Regions from separate parts of the Homo sapiens genome. Here region 1 is linked to region 2. The links come from fine-mapping of genetic effects on gene expression. Tissue or cell type: whole blood. Region 2 holds a variant in brackets; the other region holds the start of a gene. All regions are shown on one strand. Distances are from middle to middle.

Region 1 (8,037 bases), 86 kb after region 2:
CACCCCAAGAAAGGTAGCAGGAACCCAGAGTGCCCAGCAGGGAACTGGGCACTGGGAGGGCGACCCCCAATGGGAGGCATCGACGGGCGGCCCAGGGCCTCCACAAGCTCCACCCAGTCCAAGGGTGGCAGATGAAGGCTGGCAGAGCTGGGGGCACCTCCTGAGCCCTCTTGTCCCAGACTGGGAGGGGAGTCGTGCCTCTTCCTTTGCTTGGCAGGCCCGAGGACCCCATGGGCTGATTCCAGGTCACCCCCCTTGCAGGCCGGCCAAGGTAGTACCTTGCAACCCTCCTTCCCTTTGGGGCTCAGGCATCAGCCCTGGTGTCCGTCACTGCCACACAGATGGTAGGCTCAGAAGCCAGGGCCCCTGGTCCTGCCTCAGGAGTGGGACCAGACTACTTACCCAGGAACAGGACCAAGGCGGGCAGCAGGTGGCTGGACAGAGGCATGGTTGGGCCAGAGGGAGCAGTGCGGCCACACAGGGTGCCTGGGAAGTTCCGTGCGGTTATCAGCCTGCGCTGGCCCCGCACGCTGACTCTGCTGTTAAGTGGAGGGCCCCTCGGCCCGGCCCCACCCAGTGCTGACGGTGCCAAGCATGGGCCGTGAAAGTGGCCCCAGGAGGGGGCCTCTGACCCAGGGTCAGCTCCCACCTGCCCGGCTCCCTCAGACACAAGGTCAGGCTCTTCCACCCTGCCCTGCCCTGCCTGGTGAAGGGGAGGCTCCCACTGGAATGGGGAGGGACCCAGGCACCCCACCAGGACTCTGCTCGGCAGTGTGGGGCGGGCAGAGGCCGCCGTGGCCTCTCACTGTGCCTCTGGCAATAGCGTGGTGCTGGCCAAGGTCAGGACTCAACCAGTCCAGCAGCTGCAGGAGTCCAGCACGTGCACCAGAGCTGGTCCCTGCGTTCTCAGCCGTGGGGAACCTGCCTTTAAGTCAGGCTGTGGAGGATCACGCCGTCATTCATTCGTCCTGAGCAGCCAGGTGCTGTCCGGTGCCAGATACAGGGTCCCTAGGAGCCCAGAAACTTCGGTTTCTCATGGAGCAGACTCATGCTTGGGGCAGGGTCTTTGGGGCTGGGGAAGGAGTGTGGCATTTGGGGCCAGGCCCTGTTTGTGATTTCCCATGGTGTGACCTCGGAGCTTGTGTCACTGAGCCTCAGTGTCCCGGTCTGTAAAATGTGGTTATGACAGTGCCCGTCTGGAGAGGCTGGCCGGAGGACCAGTGAGCTGACAAAGGTGGGGGTGCCCTGTGTACAACCAGCCCTGGCCCCCAGGGTGCCCCTGCACCACCCCATGGAGTCCCACTGTGTATGGGGCTTCCCAGGGCAAGGCCTGAACCCGTGTCCTGCCCACAGCCCTGCCGGGTGCAAGAGGGACCTGGGAGGGGCCTCCAGAGTCAACGTGAGCCTGTGGGGTAGATGCAGCTGTGCGACCTGACCCTGGATACTGGTAGGCCCCATGGGGCTGGTCATGGAAGGAGCCTGCAGGTCACGGAAGGAGCCTCAGGGCAGACAGGACACTGGGGAGCCCTGGGATGGGCTCATAGGAGGGAGCACTGGTGGGCGCCCCAGGTCTTGGCCAGCCCGAGGGACCAGGCCCTGACTCCTCTCGCAAGGGCTTGCCAGACCTCCTCCAAGATGCCCTGGAGGACGATGGCCGTGGGAAGAGCAGTCAGGCCATCAGCGGGCCCCTTTATCAGACCCCAAAGGGCTGAGTGTGCACCGCCACTCCCTGGGGCCACTCCTGTGTTCCCCCACCCACCTGCTTTAGTTAGGGTCTGGGGGCCCCCGGAGGTGGTGACGCAGGGTGCAGGAAGCCAAGGACAGAGTTCAGAAGCCGGCAGGTGTGGCAACACGTTTAATTCTGTGGCCAGGCTAGCCTGTCTCCAAGGCCTGGTGGACAGCACGTCACCAGAGGCTGCCGCAGGAGCAGGCAGGGCCAGCCCTGCAAGAGGAGTGCAGGCAAAGGCGGGGGCTCTGAAGTGGCTGCTGGAGGCAGCAGGCCCCGGGCTGGGAGTGCTCAGTAGCCGTCGTTAGCCCAGGTGACCTCGTAGTCGGGGTACTTGGCTTTGATTTTCTCAGTTGAAATGGCGTGCTGGGCAGGACCATAGGCCTGGAGAAGAGAAGACGCCTGCTGGCACTACCTGGACCCTTCAACCCGATACCCGGCTCTGGGCATCCAGCCACCAGCCACACCAGAAGCGAGTGTGGGAAAGGGATAGGCAGTGCCTGGGGATGCCAAACCCACCATCCCGACCGCCCTTGGGGGCTCCCCTGGGGAGAGGCGACCTCCACAGGCAAGCAAACCTTGATGGTGGATCCTGGGGCCTGAGGCGCCCAGAGGGACGCACGTGGGTCTCATCTGCTGGTGGTTTTTGTGAAGAGCACAGGTGGGGACTCTGAGCTCCACCCAGGTACTGACTGCCTCTGGGGGCCCAGGGCCCAAAGTGCTGGAGGACAGCTAGAGCCCAGCAAGGCCTCCCAAGGCAGGGAGAGGAGACAGCCGGCCATGTCTGGGGGTGTCCGTCCCACCCCTCAGGTCTGGCGTGTGCTCCATGGGGGAATGCAGGAACACAATGGGCCCTGGAGGGAGGGCTCTGCCGCCGACCCTGGGAGAACCCCAGGAAGCCTGCGTGCTCAGCTGGGGCCACGGGTCAGGGCAGCAGGCTCAGGTGGGCCTCGAAGCTGGTACTGGGGCCTCCGGCAGGGCGGGACGGGGCTGCGGCTCACCATGGAATAGCCGTACACGTGAATCTTCTTGTCCTGACTCTGGTGGGAGATGCGCCCGCCGCCCAGACACTCACAGTCGCAGCCTTGCTTCTGCATGTCGCCCGACACTTTGTCGTAGATGTCCGCTGGGATGGGAGGGCGGCCTCAGGACGTGCCCTGGCCGCCCTTGGAGGCCGCGGGAGGAACTCCCAGCCGAAGGGGTCTGAAATCCCAGCTCTGAACAGCCCCTTCCCCAGGAGAGACGAAGCCCCTTGAGGCTGGGACAGGGATGAATGAGCGAAGGAGGGTGGAACCGGGGAGGGCGCGGGAACTGGGAGACTGCTGGGGAGGGTGTCAGGCCGTGTCACGCCCTTCCCGCCCAGGACCTCAGCCTGGGTCAAACCTAGCAGGGGCAGGACTCGGAGCAGAGCGCAGTCCGCTACGGCCCGCAGCCCCGCCCCCGCCCCGCCAGCCCCGCCCCTGCCTCGTCAGCCCCGTCTCCGTCCCGCCAGCCCCGCCCCCGCCTCGCCAGGCGTGCCCCTGGCATGCCCGCAGGTCCCGCCCTCACCATGGTACTCAGCCCACTTGTAGCCGCGCACGATCTCCTTGCTCTCTGCAGCCGGAGCCCCGGAGCGGGGAGCCGAGTGGACTCGGATCAGCACATACTTGAAGACGCCGTCGGAGTCGATGTCCACATCAGGAATGAGAGCGAGGTCCGCCACCGCCATGTTCCTCCTCCCGGAGTCCCCTCCTCCCACCCGACCCGGGGGCCGCTTGTACTGCGGGAGGCGGGCTCTGCGAGAGCGACGACCAATCCCGTCGGGGAATGCTTCCCAAGGCCCAGCGCCTCAGCCAATTGTACCGCCGACCGAGGCACGTGCTGACCAATCGCAATCCAGTTCCTTGCCGCCTTGCGGCTCCGCCAGCCCCGCTTAAAGGAAACGTGGAATCGGGAATGGGTGGTGATGAAATCCAGCCAACGGAGAAGTTCCTCTCCAGCGGGGTCCGGTGGCACCCTTGGAACGGGGCAGTTAGGCGGCCCGCGAGGCTGGGGCAACGAGGGAGGCCTGAGGGACTTGCCAGCCCTGACCTCCTGTCCCGCACGTAGTCCGAAGACCACCCTCCCCGTGGCCCCCACCGCCCAAAGGCCTCCCTCTCTCCCCCTCCCACCGCCCGAAGGCCTCCCCCCTCCCCGCTCTCCACCGCCCGAAGGCCTCGCTCTCCACCCCCTCCACCGCCCGAAGGACTCCCTCTCTTCCCCGTCCACCGCCCGAAGGCCTCTCCCTTTCTCCTCTCCACCGACCGAAGGCTTCCGTCCCCAACCCCGCTACCGGTACAAGGAGGCAACGGCAGCCGCTACATTCAAGTTCTATTTTACTTGGTTCGAAAGCTCTTGCCCCCTGGAAATTATTCCGGTCCAGGGGCGTTCCCGGCCGGCCCTCAGGGGTGGGGCCGAATGCAGAGGCCCTGGGGTAGGGGGCGCGGGGCGCGGCGGCGGGTGGGCAAGCGGGACGCCTGGCCGGTGCAGACGCGCGGGGACGAGATGGGCGTGCCGGGTGCGAAAGCAGGAGCGGAGGCGGGGGTGCCCAATTTCTCTCACTTGGTGCCCCCTCCCCTGGCTCCGAAGTAGGGCTGGGGACTCCAGGAGGGCCCTTGCGTTTGGCCTCCACCCCTCTCCCGCATACCCCACCCTCCAGAGAGCTCTGGGCGCGGACCAGGGTGCACTTGGGGGACAGGTGGAGGCCGGGCCGCCGGGCTTGCGCCTCCACGCCCGCAGTACGGCGTGCGGCCAGAGCGGGTGTGCGGGGACCTCTCGGGACAGGTCAAGCCCCCTCGGGTGGGCTTCCACGCTTACCAACTAGCTCTCTCCCTCACCTGCTCGCACCACGCTTTGCCCTCCAGGCTCCCACCTGGGAACGCCCCGTCCCTTGGTCCTTCCTCTCCTAGCCAGGTGTCAGCTCTGGCCAGGCCCAGGTGCTCTGCTTCCCCTGTTCAGGTCCCCTGCCCCTTCGGCTGGGAGACTTGCATATCGGCCTGAAGACCTCCCTGCGGTTTTTCCCAGCTCCTGCAGGGCCCAGACTGCAGCGGCTGGAGGCGAAGGGACGGCAGGGCGCGTGGCGTGGTTAGTGTGCTGGCTCCGACCAGCGGGAACGCACTGCGCACCGTCCGCCCTGCCCACCGCCTCGGCGGGACGCGCTCGCGCACACGGACGCACAGAGGTCGACCAGGGTGTTCTCCAGCGAGGAGGCAACACAGCCGCGGGAGGCGGGGCGGGGCGTGTTTAAAGTGACAGACTGGGCTTTGGTTACGTCGGGCTTCTGGACGAGGGGAAACCGGAGTCGGGGAGGCTCCAGCGAGAGCCCCGCGGACCGACGGGGACCGGATCTCTACGGGTGGGGTCTGTGCAGTAGTGACCCCTCCGAGTGAAGGCAGAGCTCGGCGGTCCTCAGGCCCACCCCGCCTCCCAGCGGGGAGCACCGAGGGCGAGGACCGACTTCTTCTGGGGATCCTCGAGGGCGAGCTGGGAGAGGGAGGAGGCCCGGAGGAGGGAGAGGGGTTGCTGGGGGTGGGAAGGCGAAGGGCCTGTGAGGAACACTACGGGGACGAAGGGCCGGGGGGTGGGGGCCTGGGCGGAGCTGGAGGCCGAACTGAGCGGAGCTTGGAAGGCTGGGGAATTAGAGGCGGGGCCTAGAAGAAGTCGGGGTGGGGCCCTGGCGGGGCTCGGGGGCGGCCCTGGGTGGGCCGGGCGGGGCCTGAGTGGGCAGGGCAGGGTTCGGGCCAGCGCCTGGGCTAGGCCTGGTGGGCCCGGCGCCTCACATGATGTCGTCCAGCAGGTTGGCGCTGGCCACCCAGTCGAGCGCGCGCGGCTCGGAGGCGGCCATGATCATGCACATGAAGGGGCGGCCGGTGCGCCGGTCCGTGGGGTAGATGGTGGTGGGCGTGAAGCGCCTGTTGGCCTCGACGAACTCGCAAAGCTGCTCGTAGACGCGCGGGAACTCGTGGCGCAGGAAGACGCCGCGCAGCCGCAGCTCGCGCTGGATGTGGATGAAGGCCACCTCGCGCGCGCGCCGGCCCGCCTCGCCGTCCTGATCCAGGCCCGCCGTGCCCGGCGGTGGCGTCAGGATCAGCGTCTCCATGTCGGGCTCGCGGCTCCGCGCCGGGGGCGGCCGCGCGGGGCTGCCGGCCGCCAGCGCTACCTTGGCGAACTTGCGCACTGTTGGCCCGTGGCTGCGTGGCGCGGGCGCGGGCAGGGCCGGTGTCCCCGGTGGCGCGGTGCCGGGTCCCACGGCCACGGACACGCTGAGCAGGAAGCACTCTGCCGGTTCGTAGAGGCGCCCAGCGGCCGCCAGCTCGCGCGCGTAGCTGCCCAGGGGCGCCGCGTGTGTGGCCAGCTCACGCAGCGATAGGTAGGTGGGGGATAGCAGCAGCCCCTCCAGGCCAAAGCGCAGGAAGTTGTCGGCCGAGCCTGGACTTGGGAAGCCCAGGAAGAGCACGCCGCGGCCGCGCGACAGGAAGCCGACACGCGCGATGCGCGAGAAAGCGCGGTGCACCGGGCCGCTGTCGCGGCAAAACTGCAGTACGTGGCGGCACACGCTGCCCACGCGGCCGTACACGCAGCGCGCCTTGTGGGCGTCCCAGTCCTCGCGGCGGCACAGGCGCGAGCAGTAGTAGGTGTAGCAGCTGTGGCAGGACTTGAAGTAGAGGCAGGCGTTGAACATGGTCTCGGTGCGCCGGCAGCGCGCATTGGAGCAGGTCATCAGGTCGTCCTCGTCGGCGCTGGGTTCGGGGGACGCGTCGGCCGCCTCTCCCGGGGCCGCGGGCTCCTCGGCGCTGCCGGCCGAGGCGGGGGGCGAGCGTGGCGGCGCCAGCGCGGGGGCCCCGGAGCCCGCGGGCCGCGAGTCCAGCAGTCGGCGCAGTTGGGGGCCCAGGCAGTCGGCCGCGGGCTCTGAGGCCTGGCCGGCGGTGGGTCGCGAGTCGATGACCAGGTCCGTGATGAGCTCGTCCAGCTGCTCTAGGCTCCGCTGGCGGCCAGAGGTGGGGCCGTCGGGGGCCGCGTGGGGAGGTGGCCGCGTGCGGCCCCCGGGCAACTCCCAGGCCCTGGCGCTCGGGCGCTCGGTGGCGCGCAGGTCATTGTCAGTGATGGTGATCTCGGGCGTCACGTACCAGTTGCGGCCCAGGCCCTCGCCCGCGCGGCCCTTCTCCGTCAGCGACGTCTCGGACAGGGACAGTGCGGCGTAGCGTCTGGGAGAGGTGGACAGGTTCACGACGACGGGCGGGCGCCGGCCTTCGGGGGACACGCCTCGCGGCTCCCGCACCTCGCGCCCCAGCAGGTTCTCGTAGCTGCGGCCGCGGCCCAACGGGTCTTCTCGGCGCGGCCCCGGGGCCAGAATGTTGTCCCAGGAGCGCGAGTAGTGGCGGCTGTCGGTGGCCAGCCGGGGCGGACTGGTGCCGGTGCCGCCGTGCCAGGAGGCGAGCAACGGGTCGGGGTCAGAGGGCGGCACCACTTGCAGGGTGCGGTACGGTCGCGGGCCCCAGTCCGCCCAGGCCGGGCTGCTGCGCGGGTGCGGGTACGTCCGAGCCAGGACGTCACGCTCGCGGTACCTTCCGAAGTCCTCCGTGTAAAAGGGGCGGGCGGTGGAGTGGGCCCGGGGCTCCTCGGGGACATAGCGGGGCCCGTAGGGCAGGCCGTAGGCTCGTGGAGCCTCCCCATAGTAGGAGCGGGAGGGCGGTTCCTGGATTGGGAAGGTGCGCACCTCTCCTGCGTAGTAGCCGCCCATGCGCCTTGGACTGGGCCCCGAGAGCTCCTCGGACGGATAGGGCCTGGGGTAGTAGGCGTCGAAGGTTGGGCCGGGACTGGCTGCAAAGCTGCCCCGGAAGCCTTGGGGCTCCTCTGTATAGAAGAACTGGGTGGGGCCCGGCGGGGTGGTGAAGGGCAGACTGCGGCGCTCGGCGTAGTCCCGGGGCCCAGGCAGGGGCCCGTCGCAGTAGAACGCCCGGGGATCCGCACAGTATGAGTCGCTGGGCGTCGGGGTGCGCGACAGCGCCATGTGGCGGGGCCCGGGCACCGTGAGGCCGTGGAACTGCGGGGCGGGGCGGGCCCAGTGCGCGGCCTCGGTGGGCCCGCAGGACCGCGAGCCCCGGGTGGCGTGCTGGAGCACTGCGTCGTCTGGCTTGATGTCCAGGCGGCAGCGCACGTGGGGGGCGGGACCCGCGGGTGGCTCGGGCGGTGCGCAGCGGCCCGCGGCGGCGCACAGGGGCGCGACGCGGCCGGGGCCGCCCCGCTGCGGCTGCAACTTGATGGGATGCAGCTCGTTGGCAAGGGCGCGGAGC
Region 2 (8,338 bases):
CAAGCACACCACGGGCAGGCTCCAAAGAATTGAGCAATTTCCTGAAAAGGACTTACCTACGTTCACATTCAAGGAGACTAACAAAAACATTCCTATGCACCATAAAACAAAAGTGGGGACAGAAATCAAGAGGACTTGGACATTTCAAAATAAAAAGGGAGCCAATTAGACACTGGAAAATGACAGGGCGAGTGACTGCATCAAAAGCTTGATACGTAGGCCGGGCGCGGTGGCTCACGCCTGTAATCCCAGTACTTTGGGAGGCCGAGGTGGGCAGATCACGAGGTCAGATCGAGGCCATCCTGGCTAACAAGGTGAAACCCTGTCTCTACTAAAAATACAAAAAATTAGCCGGGCGCGGTGGCGGACGCCTGTAGTCTCAGCTACTCGAGAGACTGAGGTAGGAGAATGGCGTGAACCTGGGAGGCGGAGCTTGCAGTGAGCCGAGATTGCACCACTGCACTCCAGCCTGGGCGACAGAACAAGACTCTGTCTCAAAAAAGGAAAAGAAAAAAAAAAAAATCTTGATATGTGGAAAGTGCTGGACCAGACAGACTCGACGAGAGGACCAGGCAGCAGAAGATGGCACAGAGGAGACGAAAGAAACACAGCCCTGGGAGGGGAATGGAGCGGCATGCATGCCCCCACCCCATCTACGGGGCAGGGGTGGAGACCCAGTGTTTAAAGAGAAAGTGACTGAATTAGCAAAAGAACAGAAGTCCTCAGAAAACATATGCTGAGGTCAGGCCGGGCGTGGTGGTTCATGCCTGTAATCCTAGCACTTTGGGAGGCCGAGGCGGATCACTTGAGGTCAGGAGATCAAGACCAGCCTGGCCAACACGGTGAAACCCCTTTTGTACTTAAAAAAAAAAAAAAAAAAAATTAGCCGAGCGTGGTGGCACACACCTCTAATCCCAGCTACTCAGGGGACTGAGGCAGGAGAATTCATTGAACCCGGGAATGAGCTGAGATTGCGCCACTGCACTCCAGCCTGGGCGACAGAGTGAACTCTGTGAAACTGCAGCTATGAAACTTGTGCACGGGGCCTGGAGCAGCTGCCAGAGAGCTGGGTCAGGGAGCAGCAGCAAGATCCCAAGTTTCGCAGAACTGGTGCTTGACCTAACATCCATGACCTGAACTCCACGCAGCCGCAACACCGGACGTGAGTGCTGGGGCCAGGCAGAAAGCCCAGAGCAGCCCTAAGGGCCAGGGAAAGGAACCCACGCCGATGCGCAGGGTCAGTGAGGCAATGCCCTGGGTTTACCCTCTTCTCCATTCTTTTGTGACCCTGATGGCAGTGGGAGTGGTGGCTACAGGAACCCATCAGAGCCAAACTTGGGGCCAGAAAGTCCCTCACAGCTCAGTGCGGCTGTATTGAGGGTGGGACCACCCCCATTAGCTTTCCTCCCCTGTCCTCCTGCCACATAGACTCCAACGCGGCCCAGTCAAGGGCATGTCACTGTCTGAACTGACAGTGAGTGAGCCCAGCAACCAAACCCAGCGTGGGGAGCTTGGGAAGCACCCACATGGGGTGGCTGTGGATGCCGGGCTCAGCTCACATGCAGACACATGGGTCTAATGATCACACCATGGACGTGGGGAACTGCAGACCAGCCTTGGGTCCCAGACCAAAGACCAGCAGCTCTGAAGACAGGAGTCCACGCAGGTGGGAGCAGTGTGGGCCCAACCCTCACAGGACCAAGTGCCTGCTAACCAAAGACACCCACGCAGGTGGGAGCAGTGTGGGCCTGACCATCCCAGGACCAAGTGCCTGCTAACCAAAGATACTCATGCGGGCAGGAACAATGTGGGCCCAACCTTCACAGGACCAAGTGCCTGCTAACCAGACTTCAACATTTCCCACAGGATTCAAACATGACCCAGATCTCATAAAGTCATATTCAAAATGTCTAGAATATAGCCCAAAATTGCTTGACACACGAAGAACCACAACATTTCAACTTGCAGCTGGGCACCGCGGCTCACACCTGAAACCCTAGTTCCCTGGGAGGCCACGGCTGCAGGGAGCAATCACCGGGCCGCTGCACTCCAGCCTGGGTGACAGAGACCCTGTTTCTAAAAAATAAAAATAAAAAATAAAAGATTCAATGTGCAAAGGTAAAGACCCATAAATTCTATTTCCCAAAAACAATTAGTAGCTTTTTTAAAAAACCACACAACAAATTTTTATTATTTTTTAATTTTTGTAGAAATGAGGTCTATGTTGCCCAGGCTGGTCTCAAACTCCTGGGCTCAAGTAATCTTCCAGCCTCGGCCTCCAGAAGTGCTGGGATTACAGGCGTGAGCCACCGCACCGGCCAACACAATTCTTAAAAGGCACTGGGATTCCTCTGCTTCAAGATCATTACTAGGCTAGAAAAATAAAGCTTGTTCTACCAGAAATCACAAGTAAGAACTGAGTGTTCTCCAAGGCAGAAATTGTAGAGTCTAGTGCCATTTCAGGCAACGATGACTAAGCTCTGAACCCCAACATCCACAGCTGCCCATCAGAACACTTAAACCAGCTCGGAACAGACCAGCACAATTCGGCTTCATCAGACAAGGCCACCGTGCTCTTCTAAGATGCTAATAACCCCAAACAGGAGGTGCTGAAACCAAATGAAAGACAGTCTTTGAGGCTAGCTGCCACACCAACTGTGAGTTCCTTGTTATGTCCCCCTTCTATAACATTAATCAAGGAAATATTTTACTGCAAAGAGTATTTTATATGCCACTAGCCATGAATTTTTGTCATTAGTTACTACATAAATGTCACCTAGTGCCTGCCATTATCCACATGGCACAACCATTTTATGTCTACAATTCACTTCTGTATTTACAAACAGAATCTTTGTGATTCCCATAAGTACATTAGCAAAGGTTTAACATCGAGATGCAATCTAACATCCATAACCTCCATTGTTTTGCAGACAGCAATGTAGGAGAGAGAGATTTTTTTTTTTTTTTTTTTTTTTTGAGACAGAGTCTTGCTCTGTCGCCCAGGCTGGAGTGCAGTGGCGCGATCTCAGCTCACTGCAGGCTCTGCCTACCAGGTTCATGCCATTCTCCTGCCCCAGCCTCCCGAGTAGCTGGGACTACAGGCGCCCGCCACCATGCCCGGCTAATTTTTTTGTATTATTTTAGTGGAGACGGGGTTTCACTGTGTTGGCCAGGATGGTCTCGATCTCCTGACCTCGTGATCCGCCCGCCTCGGCCTCCCAAAGTGCTGGGATTCCAGGCATGAGCCACCATGCCCGGCTGAGGATTGTGTTCTTTAAAACAGTTTTATTTGGATTTACAAAATCTGAACACCTTACAATCATTGCAGATGAACATTATGCCATGGCCCCAGGTAGATGCACCCTGAACAAAAACTCACACTTCCCGATATGCAGGGGGAACCTGCAAGTCCTCACCAACCAAACGCCAGGCTTGGGAGGAAGTGACACAGACACAGATGCTGAAATTATCTGACAAGGGCTTTAAAGTAGCTACTATAAATATGCCAGAGCAAGCAATCACAAACATTTTGCAATGGATGTAAAAATATGAAAGTCTCAGCAAAAAAATAGAAGATGTAAAAAGGACCATTCATACCAAGATTAGGTATCTATAAAAAGAGAAGGAAAAAGGCTGGGCACGGTGGCTTACGCCTGTAACCCTAACATTTTGGGAGGCCAAGGCGGGCAGATCACCTGAGGTCAGGAGTTCAAGACCAGCCTGGCCAACATGGTAAAATCCCGTCTCTACTAAAAATACAAAAAAAAAAAGGCCGTGTGCGGTGGCTCACGCTTGTTAATCCCAGCACTTTGGGAGGCCGAGGTGGGCAGATCACAAGGTCAGGAGGATCGAGACCAAGTTCCAGCTACTCGGGAGGCTGAGGCAGAATGGCGTGAACCCAGGAGGCGGAGCTTGCAGTGAGCCGAGATCGCGCCACTGCACTCCAGCCTGGGCGACAGAGCAAGACTCCATCTCAAAAAAAAAAAAAAAAAAAAAGACAGGTTCTCACTCTGTTGCCCAGCCTTGAGTCACCAGTACAGTCATGACTTACTGCAGCTTCGACCTTCAGGCTCAAGTGATCCTCCCACCTCAGCCTCTCAAGTAGCTGGGACCACAGGCATGCACCACCACACCCAGCTAATTTTTATATTTTTTGTAGAGATGGGGTTTTGCCATGTTGTCCAGGCTGGTTTTGAACTCCTAGGCTGAAGTGATCCGCCTGCCTCGGCTTCCGTAAGTGCTGGGATTACGGCGTGAGCCACCATACTGGGCTGCAGCCTCTTTTTAAGGGCACGAATCCCATCCACAAGTGTTGCACCCTCATGATCTAAAAAGTCCTGC[C/T]TCCAAGTACCATCACATTGGAGATTATGTTTCAACACAGGAAATTGGGTGGGGGGGGCACAAACATTGTCTTCTCTTAGTCTGTTTTTGCTGCTATAACCGAATACCTGAGACCAGATAATTTATAAGGAATAGAAATTTATTGGCTCACAGTTCTGGGGGCTGGGAAGTCCCAGAGTAAGGTGCCAGCGTCTGGTGCAATCCTTCTTGTTGTGTCACTGTGGAAGGTGGAAGGGCAAGAGAGGGCCAAGCTCATCTTATTATACCAGCACCAATTCCAGCCTATCTTCCCTCTGACCTAATCACCCTTTAAGGATCCCACCTCTTAACACTGTTACAATGACAATTAAATATTAACATGAGTTTGGGAGATAAAAACATTCAAACCGTAGCATTCCATCCCTGCCCCTACACCAATTCATGTTCTTTTCACATACAAAATATACTCATTCCATCCCAATGGCCCCATTCAAAAGTCCAAAGCCCAGAGTCTCGTCTAAATCAAACATGGGTGAGACTCAAGGCATGATTCATCCTGAGGCAACTTTCCCTCCACTATGAGCCTGTGAAATTAAACAAGTTACGTGCTTCCAAAATACAATGGTAGGGCAGGCATAGAACAGACATTTCCATTCCAAAGGGATAAATTATAAAGAGGAAAGGAATAACAGGCCTCAAAAGCATGTCCAAAGTCCAACAGGGAGAATACTACTAAATCCTAAGGCTTGAGAATCATCATCTTTGACTCCAAATCCTGCCTTCTGCACGCCGTGGGGTGCGGCTGGGTCCTCAGGCTCTTGGGAACCTCACCCCTAGAGCTTTGCTGGGCTCAGACCTCACACAACTCTCTTAGGTTGGAGTCTCGTGCCTTCAGCTCTCCCAGGCTGGCAATGAACACTAGAGGCTCTCCAGTTCTGGGGTCTCAGGGGTGGCCTTATCCCCAAGGCTCTACCACATATTGCCCTAGTGTGGGCTCTCTGCCATGGCTCTGGCCTGGAGACTTGTGACATCCTGTGTGACACCCAGTGGATGAAGCCATGTCCCCACAGCTCCTGCAAGGCTGCAGAATCGACACCACCAAGGCTTATGACTTGTACCTTCCCTGGGTCCACATGAGACAGGCTGGAGTGGCTTAGGGGGTCTGCACTGGAATGCAGACAGCCAAGACTTGGGGTGGCCCTGGCCAGCAGGCTCTAAGGTCCACACCCTACACCTCTCTTTTGACATATTTCCTTCCCAAAGGCCTTGGCACTCTGGGCCTGTGGTGGGAGGGGCAGCACCAGGAATCTGAAATGCCTCTGGGGCCATTTTCCCACTGTCCTGATGAGCAGCCTCTGGCTTCGTTCTGTCCATACTAAGTTGCTTGGCCACACACTTGGTCTGTTCTCCTAAAGACATCTTATTTACTCCCTAAATGGGCAGGCTGAAAATCCTTACGATCCCTATTCTTTCCTTGTTAATTATAAATTCCATCTTTAATTCATTTCTCTTCTCACATCTTACTCTCTGCAGTTAGAAGAAAACATGCCACACCCTGAGTATTTCTTCAGCCAGATATCCCAGTTCCTTCCACAAAGGAAGGACTGGGCATGGACACCGTTCAGCCACGTTCTCTGCCACTTTATAACTAGGATGGTCATTCCTCCAGTTTCTGACACCTTGTTCTTCATTTCTGTCTGAGATCTTACCAGAATGGCCTTCACTGTCCAGATTTCTACCAACATTCTGACCATGACCACTTTAAGTATTCTCAAAGAAGCTTCAGACTTTCCCTACAGTTCTCTTCTGAGCCCTCAACAAAATCACCCTTTACACTCCATGAATGGCATCTAAGCTTCTTCTCGCTCCTCCAAACTCTTCTGGCCTCTGCCTACTACCCAGTTCCAAAGCTGCTTCCACATTTTTCGAGCATTTGTGATGACAACAAACCCACTCCTGGTCTCGATTTTCTGCCCACAGCACCCTGATACCAAAAACCAGACAAAGACAATACAAAAGACAATTATAGACAAATGTCCTTCATGAACAGAGATGCAAAATCCTCAAAAAAAATTTAAATCAAATCCAGCAATATATAAAAGTGATAGTGCACCATAACCAGGTAGGGTTTATTCCAGGAATGCAAGGTTGGTCCAATATTTGAAGATCAACATAAGTCACCATATTAACTGTACAGGAGAAAAACCACATGAACATATCACTTGGTATAGAAAAAGCATCTTTTTTTTTTTTTTTTTGGAAGACAGTTTCCTTGTTGCCCAGGTTAGAGTGCAATGGCACGATCTCAGCTCACTGTCACCTCCGTCTCCCAGTTCAAGCAATTCTCCTGCCTCAGCCTCCCAAGTAGCTGGGATTACAGGAGTGCACCACCATGCCCAGCTAATTTTTGTTTTTAATAGAGATGGGTTTTCACCATGTTGGCCAAGCTGGTCTCAAACTCCTGACCTAAGGTGATCCGCCTGCCTCGGCCTCCCAAAGTGCTGGGATTATAGGCATGAGCCACCAAACCCAGCCATTGAAAAACATCTTGATAAAATGTCTAGTCATGATAAAAAAAAAAAAAAAAAACCCTAGAAGCAAACTAGAAGTAGAAGGGAACTTGCTCAACCTGATAAAACAGCATCACCAAAAATCCCCGTGGGTAACATGATACATAATTGTGAAAGCAAGAAAGCTTTCCCCAAGAGTGGGAATGAGGAAAGGCTATAGACTCTTACCATTACTATTCAACCTTATAAACGGGAAGTCAGCCAATGGAACAAGGCAAGCAAAAGAAATAAAAGGCATAGAGATTGAATAAAAAGAAATAAAACTGTCCTTATTAATGGATGACATATTGTTCACACATAAAATCCCCCCAAATCTATAAAAACAAACAAAATCCTAATCTCCTACAACCAGTAAGTGAATTCATCAAGGTTATGAGGTATAAGAACAACACATAAAAATCAGTTTTGTTTTTAAACACTGGAAATATACAGTCAGAAACCAAAATTCAAAAAACAACCTCTTACAACAGCTCAAGAAACAAAGTAAGCTGTGGGATAGGAAGCAATAAATAAGTAAAAGAAACACTGAAGCATAAACCTACTAAAACATGTACAAGATATGTATACTGGCTGGGTGTGGTGACTTTTATGCCCATAATCCCAGCACTTTGGAAGGCAGAGGTGGGTGAATCACTTGAGTCCAGGACACCAGCCCAGGCAACATGGCAAAACCCTATCTCTACAAAAAATACAAAAATTAGCCGGGCGTGGTGGCACACACTTGTAGTCCCAGCTACTTAGGAGGCTGAGGTGGGAAGATCCATTGAGCCCAGGAGGTCAAAGCCACAGTGAGCTGCGATCATGCCACTGCATTCCAGCCAGTTCAACATACATATGAAATACTACAAAACGCTGATAAAGAATAGAGATAGACTATGTTCATGGATTGTCTGACTCAACACAGATGTCAATTCTCCCCAAACTGATGTGTAGACTTAACGCAATTCCAATCAAAATCCCAGAATTTTTTTGTAGTTGACTGTGAAATATATATGTACTGTCAAACAAACAAAAATAGGGAAAACAATTCTGAAAAACAACAACTGGCTGGGCGTGGTGGCTAATGCCTGTAATCCCATCACTTTGGGAAGCTGAGGCAGGCGGATCACTTGAGCCCAGGAGTTTCAGGCCAGCCTGGACAACAGAGAGACCCTGTCTCCGGCTGGGTGCAGTGGCTCATGCCTGTAATCCCAGCACTCTGGGAGGTCGAGGTAGGCAGATCTGAGGTCAGAAGATCGAGACCATACTGGCCAACATGGTGAAACCCCGACTCTACTAAAAATACAAAAAAATTACCTGGGTGTGGTGGCATGCACCTGTAATCCCAAATACTTGGAAGGCTGGGGCAGGAGAATCGCTTGAACCAAGGAGTCAGAGGTTGCAGTGAGCCAAGATGGGTCACTGTACTCCAGTCTGGTGACAGAGCGAGAGTCTGTCTCAAAAAAAAA

What was found. PIP is the estimated chance that this variant, and not a neighbour inherited with it, causes the effect.
Region 1: PHPT1 starts here. The variant in region 2 is fine-mapped to the expression of PHPT1 in whole blood (TOPMed, PIP above 0.99).

What each region holds. Positions count from the first base shown.
Region 1 is chr9:136,844,828-136,852,864 of GRCh38, reverse strand. It overlaps PHPT1 (phosphohistidine phosphatase 1), which reads right to left and starts at 3,456. Exons shown (of 3, transcript NM_014172.6): 1 at 3,275-3,456; 2 at 2,728-2,852; 3 at 1,841-2,110. The coding sequence starts at 3,434. The coding sequence ends at 2,018. It overlaps AJM1 (apical junction component 1 homolog), which reads right to left. Exons shown (of 3, transcript NM_001080482.5): 3 at 4,064-8,037. The coding sequence ends at 5,520. MAMDC4 (MAM domain containing 4) reads right to left here and starts at 519. Exons shown (of 27, transcript NM_206920.3): 1 at 403-519. The coding sequence starts at 448. RefSeq lists silencers at 3,135-3,214, 3,605-3,664, 3,845-3,924, 4,005-4,064, 4,285-4,514 and 1 more and an enhancer at 3,205-3,484.
Region 2 is chr9:136,930,948-136,939,285 of GRCh38, reverse strand. No RefSeq gene overlaps it. Among named protein-coding and RNA genes, the nearest start is that of FBXW5, 9.6 kb to the left of the region's middle. RefSeq lists enhancers at 616-1,228, 1,229-1,842. The variant C/T (reference allele first, on the strand shown) is at 4,342.